2 separate regions of the Homo sapiens genome follow, and region 2 is linked to region 1. The links come from fine-mapping of genetic effects on gene expression. A gene starts in region 1. The other region holds a variant in brackets. All regions are shown on one strand. Distances are from middle to middle.

What was found. PIP is the estimated chance that this variant, and not a neighbour inherited with it, causes the effect.
Region 2: its variant is the best candidate, but not a certain one, in a credible set for the expression of SDF4 in skeletal muscle (FUSION, PIP 0.62).

Annotation. Positions count from the first base shown.
Region 1 is chr1:1,230,035-1,234,417 of GRCh38, forward strand. It overlaps SDF4 (stromal cell derived factor 4), which reads right to left and starts at 1,967. Exons shown (of 7, transcript NM_016176.6): 1 at 1,858-1,967. It overlaps B3GALT6 (beta-1,3-galactosyltransferase 6), which reads left to right and starts at 2,203. Exons shown (of 1, transcript NM_080605.4): 1 at 2,203-4,383. The coding sequence starts at 2,245. The coding sequence ends at 3,234. RefSeq lists a silencer at 1,445-2,304 and enhancers at 1,921-2,602, 2,603-3,284, 4,069-4,383.
Region 2 is chr1:1,991,802-1,996,184 of GRCh38, forward strand. All of the region lies in intron 1 of CFAP74 (cilia and flagella associated protein 74), which reads right to left. Among named protein-coding and RNA genes, the nearest start is that of CFAP74, 9.8 kb to the right of the region's middle. The variant A/G (reference allele first, on the strand shown) is at 2,058.

The DNA.
Region 1 (4,383 bases):
CAGGGGCTCACAGGGCCTCATGCCTCATGTATCCCAAAGGGAACTCGGGGTCCTTCTCACCCACGAGCCTACTCCTTTCACAGTCTGCCCCTCCGGCAAACACCTGCGGGTCCTTTCGGGTGCCGCTGAGGCCCCGCCATGTCACAGCTGTTCCCTCAACACACATGGACTGAGACTCCTGTTCTGTGGCCGTCTTATTCAGCTTCACTGTTCTGGCACCTGCCACTCTGCCTGCACACAGTAGGCGCTCAACGAATGCTACCCTGGGTAATATTAAACGAAAAAATGCTGCCTCCAGGTATCGAGAAACACCAGTGGGGCCGCCATGAAAGTGGTCCTGAAGTCAGTGCAGTCTGCCACAAACCAAGAGGGGTACAAGCCTGAGTTCCCCCAAGGAAGGAAACCCTGGGTGAGGGGCTCATGTCTGATTTTTTTTTTTTTTCTGAGACAGAGTCTCACTCTGTCGCCCAGGCTGGAGTGCAGTGGTGCAGTCTCGGCTCACTGCAACCTCCACCTCCCAGGTTCAAGTGATTCTCCTGCCTCGGCCTCCCAGTTAGCTGGGATTACAGGCACCCACCTCCACTCTCCACTAATCTGTATTTTTAGTAGAGATGGGGTTTTGCCATGTTGGCCAGGCTGGTCTCTAACTCCTGACCTGAAGTGATCCTCCTGCCTCGGCCTCCCAAAGTGCTGGGACTATAGGCGTGAGCCATGCACCCGGCCTGATTTTCTGAACATGGCTGAGGGCTTTTCCCTTCCCTAGTGGTGGCATAATTCTATTCCTGTCGTCCCAGATCGCCTGACCAGGGGAGAGTCCTGGATAAGAACCAAGACACCTCCTCCTGGTGCTGACTCCACTAACTACAGTCGTAAAACACACGCTGTGTGCAAAGAGACTGTACTTTGTTCCTAGAGAAAATAAAGCTAGTTCTTGATTCTACATATCTTGATGAGTTACACGGTTTACTTGAGGCAGGAGGATCGTGAGACCAGCCTGGGCAACACAGTGAGACTGCGTCTCTTTAAAAAACAAAAACAAAAAGATAAGACCCTGTCTCGAAAAAGGGGGAATAAAAAGTAACCCAAAAGTAACTATAAATATCAGGAGTCCATCAAGTGGCGCTTCCTCTCCTGGCTTCAGAGTATCTATTCATCACGGTGTGCCAGGTTCGCAGCACAGCGGAGCGGGCCGGTCCCACCGGAATGGGGTTTCGACTTCGCCATCCCCTAGCAGCTCAGTTCCCAGCAAGGAATCAACACACCCTTGCAAAACGGACGTGGGAAACAGCTTAGGCAGAGACGCTATTTCTTTGCCATCCCTGGGCTTCAGCTCTGGTGGAACGAGGCTATTTCTGGCAGTTAACAACACACACGGTTAGATTCTAAAAGCTCAACAGGGTTCATAACACCGCCTCTGAGCCAGACATCAAGGGCTCCACACAGCCGACTTCACATCTCCAAATCCTACTAACTGGGGATGAGGGTCCACGCGGTTCAGAAGCGGAAGCGCAGGCGCAGGGAAGCGGGGCAGCTTGTCCAAGGTCGCCTCGCCGATAAACGCGAGTCCAACCAGACCCCTTGGGCCTCCGTTTCCCGGTGGCATTCGTAGGTTTTGGCCAGTAGGAGACCAGACGTGCCGGCGGCCGGGGAGGCCAGCGTCGTCGGCCTGTCCCTGCCCCCGGGAACCCCGGGAGCCCCGGTGGCGGCGGAGTCTCGCCAGGGCTCAAGGCCGAGCGGACGGACGATGCCCCAGCCCAAGGCGGGAGGCGGCGGCGGCCTCCAGACCCGCCCTCGCCGTCCGGCCGGCGTACACTTGGCCCCGCGGCCTGCAGCGGCCGTCCCGGGCCCCTCACTCACCGGTCTGCCTCCCCGCGCTCGGGATCCGAGGACCGGAGCGAAGCGTCAGTGACGCCGCCAACGGGCCCGGATCAGGCCACTGCCATCTTTCTTGCGGGCGGGGGCGGTGCGAACGGGCGCGACCTCACGGAGGGGACGCCGGCGCCACCATCTCTCCTCCGGGCGGAAGCGGTCGCGGGGCCGCTCCGAGGTTGACCAATGACAAGGGTGCCCGAGGCCACGTGACGGCCGCCGATTGGCCGCCGGCCTCCGAGCGCCCCGGGGCTCGGCGTCTGCGGAAGGCCCCGGCGCGCTCCCAGGAGCGCCGTGCGCACGCGCACCGCCCCGAGCCGGCGGCGCCTGCGCACTCGCGAGTCCGGCCTGGGCCGCCGGCCCGGCGCGGGCGCCATGAAGCTGCTGCGGCGGGCGTGGCGGCGGCGGGCGGCGCTAGGCCTGGGCACGCTGGCGCTGTGCGGGGCGGCGCTGCTCTACCTGGCGCGCTGCGCGGCCGAGCCCGGGGACCCCAGGGCGATGTCGGGCCGCAGCCCGCCTCCCCCCGCGCCCGCGCGCGCCGCCGCCTTCCTGGCAGTGCTGGTGGCCAGCGCGCCCCGCGCCGCCGAGCGCCGCAGCGTGATCCGCAGCACGTGGCTTGCGCGGCGCGGGGCCCCGGGCGACGTGTGGGCGCGCTTTGCCGTGGGCACGGCCGGCCTGGGCGCCGAGGAGCGGCGCGCCCTGGAGCGGGAGCAGGCGCGGCACGGGGACCTGCTGCTGCTGCCCGCGCTGCGCGACGCCTACGAAAACCTCACGGCCAAGGTGCTGGCCATGCTGGCCTGGCTGGACGAGCACGTGGCCTTCGAGTTCGTGCTCAAGGCGGACGACGACTCCTTCGCGCGGCTGGACGCGCTGCTGGCCGAGCTGCGCGCCCGCGAGCCCGCGCGCCGCCGCCGCCTCTACTGGGGCTTCTTCTCGGGCCGCGGCCGCGTCAAGCCGGGGGGGCGCTGGCGCGAGGCCGCCTGGCAACTCTGCGACTACTACCTGCCCTACGCGCTGGGCGGCGGCTACGTGCTCTCGGCCGACCTGGTGCACTACCTGCGCCTCAGCCGCGACTACCTGCGCGCCTGGCACAGCGAGGACGTGTCTCTGGGCGCCTGGCTGGCGCCGGTGGACGTCCAGCGGGAGCACGACCCGCGCTTCGACACCGAATACCGGTCCCGCGGCTGCAGCAACCAGTACCTGGTGACGCACAAGCAGAGCCTGGAGGACATGCTGGAGAAGCACGCGACGCTGGCGCGCGAGGGCCGCCTGTGCAAGCGCGAGGTGCAGCTGCGCCTGTCCTACGTGTACGACTGGTCCGCGCCGCCCTCGCAGTGCTGCCAGAGAAGGGAGGGCATCCCCTGAGCCGCCGCGGCCCGGCCCTCCGGGACACCTGCTTCACCCGGCGGCGCCTTGGGGCAGGTGCCGAGCGGGCGCACTACGCCCGGGCCCCAAGGCCCCCGTCCCGCAGCCACGCTTGTGGTCGCTGCGTCCCGGTCTGCGTTTGGGAGACCCCTGGGGGTTGCCGGGGCAGCGCGCCGTGTCCAGGTGGAGGTGCCCGTTCCTGGACCTCAGCGAGCCTGAGCCGGGCCCGGCCGCACGCTGACCCCCGTGCTGTCCCCGACCGGCTCACGGGGCTGGGCTCCGATCTTCCGTGTCTCTTATCAGTGGCGTTTCTCACGTCTGCGTCTCAGATCTAACGTGGTTTCACATCAATCCGCTTTCATGGGATTTTGGTCTCTGTCCAGTGACTTCGTGGTAAATGTAACTCAGTGTTTGCTTGCGACTTATTTATAAATATTGTAAGTTTGTGTCGATGAGTGTAAGTTGGCAGTGCGCACGTCTCGGTTTTTTTACATGATTTAAGGAAAGACTTTTATGTCAGAACTTGGTGCCTGTACCGTCAACCCCGCTGCTGCCCGTGTTTAAACGCAGGAGAACTTTAAAACTGGCCATCTATCTTTTCAGTGTACAAGTCACTGAACCCATTGTTTCTTTCTGAAGAGACTTTCCTTTCAAGGCTTCCCATGGGTCCGCGCCACACAGGGCCGGTGCTGCTTTATTTCAGACTCTGCCCCAGGTTCCAGGAATCCGAACCCCGGAGTGCTGACGCGGTTCCCCAACTTCCGCCTTAAGAAAACAGGACCAGCCGGCACCAGGCCCGTCTCTCACGTACTTTAACACATCCTTGAAAGCCCCTCGTTTAATGAGAAAAGCGAACACTGCGGTCCTTGCCAAAGTAAAATGAAGCTGCCCCAGGACAAGGGGTTACCATGAGCTCCCTGGAGTCCGACGCGGGTTTTCTCTCTGGGGGACCTGGGTGGTCCCCGCTGTGGTCTTTGTTGTCCCACTTTGGGACCGGGTCCAGTCTGGGGTCTAGTCTCGAGCATCAGGGTCAGGCTCGGGGCAGGGCTGGGTTAGGCTCCGGGTCAGTCTTGCCATGGGTTTGGGAGCAGGTTTGGGTTACTTGCGTTTGAAGGCAGCAGTGGTCTCAGGAGGAAGAAACGGGGGCGG
Region 2 (4,383 bases), 760 kb after region 1:
GGCCAAGGTGGGCGGATCACGAGGTCAGGAGATCGAGACTATCCTGGCTAGCACAGTGAAACCCCATCTCTACTAAAAAACAGAAAAAATTAGCCGGGCATGGTGGCAGGCGCCTGCGGTCCCAGCTACTCGGGAGGCTGAGGCAGGAGAATGGTGTGAACCCAGGAGGCGGAGCTTGCAGTGAGCCGAGATCGCGCCACTGCACTCCAGCCTGGGTGACAGAGCGAGACTCCGTCTCAAAAAAAAAAAAATGCCTGAGATCAAAACGCTGCCAACAGTGAGCACTGGCAAGGCTATGGAAGGGCTGGCATCGTCACGCGTTGCTGGTGGGAGTGTAAAGGGATACTCTGGAACACTGTTGGGCAATTTCTGTTTTCTTTTGTGACAGGGTCTCACTCTGTTGCCCAGGCTGGAGTGCAGTGACACAATCACAGTTTACTACAGCCTCAAACTTCTGGGCTCAAGCAATCTTCCCGCCTCAGCTTCACAAGTGCTAAGACTACACGCACATGCCGCCATGCCCAGGTAATTTTCAAATTATTGGTTGAGATGGTGGGTCTCTCTTTGTTGCCCAGGCTAGTCTTGAACTCCTGGTCTCAGCCAGGATTCACCCACCTCAACCTCCCAAAGTGCTGGGATTACAAGCTTGAGCCACTACATCTGGCACCAAAAACAATTTTTTTTTTTTTGGAGATGAAGTCTCGCTCAGTCTCCCAGGCTGGAGTGCAGTGGCGGGATCTTGGCTCACTGCAAGCTCTGCCTCCTGGGTTCACGCCCCTCTCCTGTCTCAGCCTCCCGAGTAGCTGGGACTACAGGCGCCCACCACTACGCCCAGCTAATTTTTTTGTATTTTTATTAGAGATGGGGTTTCACTGTGTTAGCCAGGATGGTCTCGATCTCCTGACCTCGTGACCCACCTGTCTCGGCCTCCCAAAGTGCTGGGATTACAGGCGTGAGCCACCACGCCTGGCCCAAAAACAATTCTTAAATAATTTCAAAATTATCATTACACTTTGCTTATCATTTTGGGAATGTTAGGAGCTTGCTCGTGTGGAACTCTTGGTACCGAATCTTCTGTGTCCAGATGTTGGAACTAAATAATTTCACTTAAGAAACAGGCCGGGCACAGTGGCTCGCGCTTATAATCCCAGCACTTTGGGAGGCCAAGGTGGGCAGATCACTTGAGGTCAGGAATTTGAGACCAGCCTGGCCAGCATGGTGAAACCCCATCTCTACTAAAAATACAAAAACTAGCCAGGTATGGTGGCAGGCACCTGTAGTCCCAGCTACTTGGGAGGCTGAGGCCCGAGAATTGCTTGAGCCCAGGAGGCGGAGGTTGCAGTGAGCCGAGATCACGCCACTGCATTCTAGCCTGGGCGACAGGGGAAGACTGTCTCAAAAAAAAAAAAAAAAAAAAGAAACAATGTTAAAATCACAAACTCTTTACTTATTTTTTTCTGGTGAGAATTAAATTTAATGGCTAACTTTCTTTTATTTTTTTGAGACAGGGTTTGACTCTGTCACCCAGGCTGGAGTGCAGTGGTGCGATCACAGCTCACTGCAGCCTCCAACTCCTGGGCTCAATTGATCCTCCTGCTTCAGCCTCCCAAAGGAGCTGGGACTACAGGCACGCACCACCACACCCAACTGATTTTTGTATTTTCTGTAGAGACAGGGTTTTGCCATGTTGCCCAGGCTGGTCTCAAACTTTTGGGATCAAGTGATCCACCTGCCTTGGCCTTCCCAAGTGTTAGAACTAGAGGCGTGAGCCACCGTGCCCGGCCGGTGGCTGTTTTCTATTAGACCTTAAATATGTGATTGGTTTTAACGCCTATTAATCACATTGTGCTTGTACCATGATTAATATACAAAACAGCTGATGTCAAATGCTTATAAATCAGCAGGGCACAGTGGCTCACGCCTGCAATCCCAGCACTTTGGGAGGCCGAGGCAGGTGGATCACGAGGTCAGGAGATCGAGACCATCCTGGCTAACACAATGAAACCCCACCTCTACTAAAAATACAAAAAATTAGCCGGGCGTGGTGGCGGGCGCCT[A/G]TAGTCCCAGCTACTCGGGAGGCTGAGGCAGGAGAATGGCGTGAACCCGGGAGGCGGAGCTTGCAGTGAGCCGAGATCACACCACTGCACTCCAGCCTGGGCGACAGAGCAAGACTCCGTCTCAAAAAAAATAAAAATAAAATAAAAATAAAAAAATGTAGCCAGGCGTGGTGGTGGGCACCTGTAGTCCCACCTATTCAGGAGGCTGCGGTGGGAGGATCACTTGAGCCCAGGAGGTCGAGGCTGCCGTGAGCTGTGATTGTGCCACTGCAGGCCAGCCTGGGTGACAGAGCAAGACCCTGACTCTAAAAGGGTTAAAAAAAAAAAAAAAAAAAGCTTTAAGTCAATGTACCTAGTATAGAGACAGACATTTAACATTGGGAATTAGCACTACCATTTTGCATTGAAATAATGAGTAATTCCGGGTGAAATGTACATAAATGTTGACATTATGTATGAGATGCTAAAACTGTAAAATTGTAGAGGACTGTGTTTCATTGCTTAACTTAGCAATCGCTTCAGAATAATTCACTAAAAATATTTTCAGTGCCTAGCAATGTTTCTTGGATAAATTATTAATGTATCAATGCCAGTAATTTTTTAAACTTACAAAGAAACAATTGCATTTTAAAGTCCTGGGAGGCAGAATTTTAAGGCATCTTGTAAAATTCCAACAATATTTTTTCCACTTGAAAGAACTGATTAAGCTGCTAGTCTTTGAATGGCAGGATTTTCAGAAACTATTTAGAAAATGGCCAAACCTATTCAGCTCTGTGCTTGTGAATTCCATGCGGCCTCCGCGACGTCATTTTGCTGGACACCCCGTGGATGTCAGTCTTCTAAAAGGTGTCATTGCACACACACAGTTCCTCTGAAGATGATCACACTAAACCATATACACTGAGCATCCGGTTAAAGACGGCACTTCCAACAGGCAGCCACCTCTGATCTCTCCTGAGTCCTCACTAACAACAGGGGGTAGATTTATTGTTTTCAGTACATGAATCTACCAGGGCAAGGGTCATTGGGAGAAACAGGAGCAAAGAGAAGCGGGAGGTGGAGGGATGAGGGTAGCTGTCCCTGCAGACAGAGGCGCTGGCTGACCCTCTGCAGGAGAAGCTGAGAACAAACCCGACGTCGCCACACAGCTGTGAAAGGTTCAGGACTGGGCAGCTTCAGGTGGTCCTCCAGTGGGAGCAGTGGGATTGGGAACTGAGAGACCCAGGAAAGCGTGCTGAAGAAGCAGTGGAAGTTCCACTGTGGTGACATGGCTAGCCAGTGTGCTGGCATCACACTGAAAATCATCAGAAATGCCGGATAGGACTGTACTTTAATTCTCGTAAAAATGTTGAAGAACAAACCAGGTGAGGTGGCTCACACCTGTAATCCCAGCACTTTGGGAAGCCGAGGTGGGCGGATCACTTAAGGTTTGAGACCAGCCTGGCCAACATAGTGAAACCCCGTCTCTACTAAAAATACAAAAATTAGCCGGGCGTGATGGCGCATCCCTGTAATCCCAGCTACTTAGGAGGCTGAGACAGGAGAATCGTTTGAACCCGGGAGGCGGAGGTTGCAGTGAGCTGAGATCATACCACTGCACTCCAGCCTGGGCGACAGAATGAGACTCAGTCTCAAAAAAAAGAAAAAAAAAAACAGTTGAAGAACGGACAAAATAAGAAACTTTCAGGTTAAAACCTAAGTAAAAATATAGATTAAATAAGCAAGCTAAAGGGAAGTATATTATCGAGTTGCATTAAAAACTAAGAACAGGCCGGGCTCGGTGGCTCACGCCTGTAATCCCAGCATTTTGGGAGGCAGAGGTGGGTGGATCACGAGGTCAGGAGATCGAGACCATCCTGGCTAACACGGTGAAACCCCGTCTCTACTAAAAATACAAAATTTAGCCGGGTGTGGTGGCGGGCACCTGTAGTCCCAGCTACTCAGGAGGCTGAGGCAGGAGAATGGCATGAACCCGGGAGGCGGAACTTGCAGTGAGCCGAGATTGCACCACTGCACTCCAGCCTGGGCGACAGAGCGAGACTCCGTCTCAAACAAACAAACAAAATGAAAACAACAACAACAACAAACCCAAGAACAACCAAAAAAAATCAAACTAACTTTTTTTGTTTTTGTTTTTGTTTTTTGAGGCAGAGTCTCACTCTGTCGCCCACGCTGGAGTGCAGAGGTACGATCTCGGCTCACTGCAACCTCTGCCTCCCGGAGTCAAGCAATTCTTGTACCCCAGCCTCCTGGGCAGCTGGGATTACAGGCACAGGCCACCACGCCTGGCTAATTTTTGTATTTTTAATAGAGACGGAGTTTCATC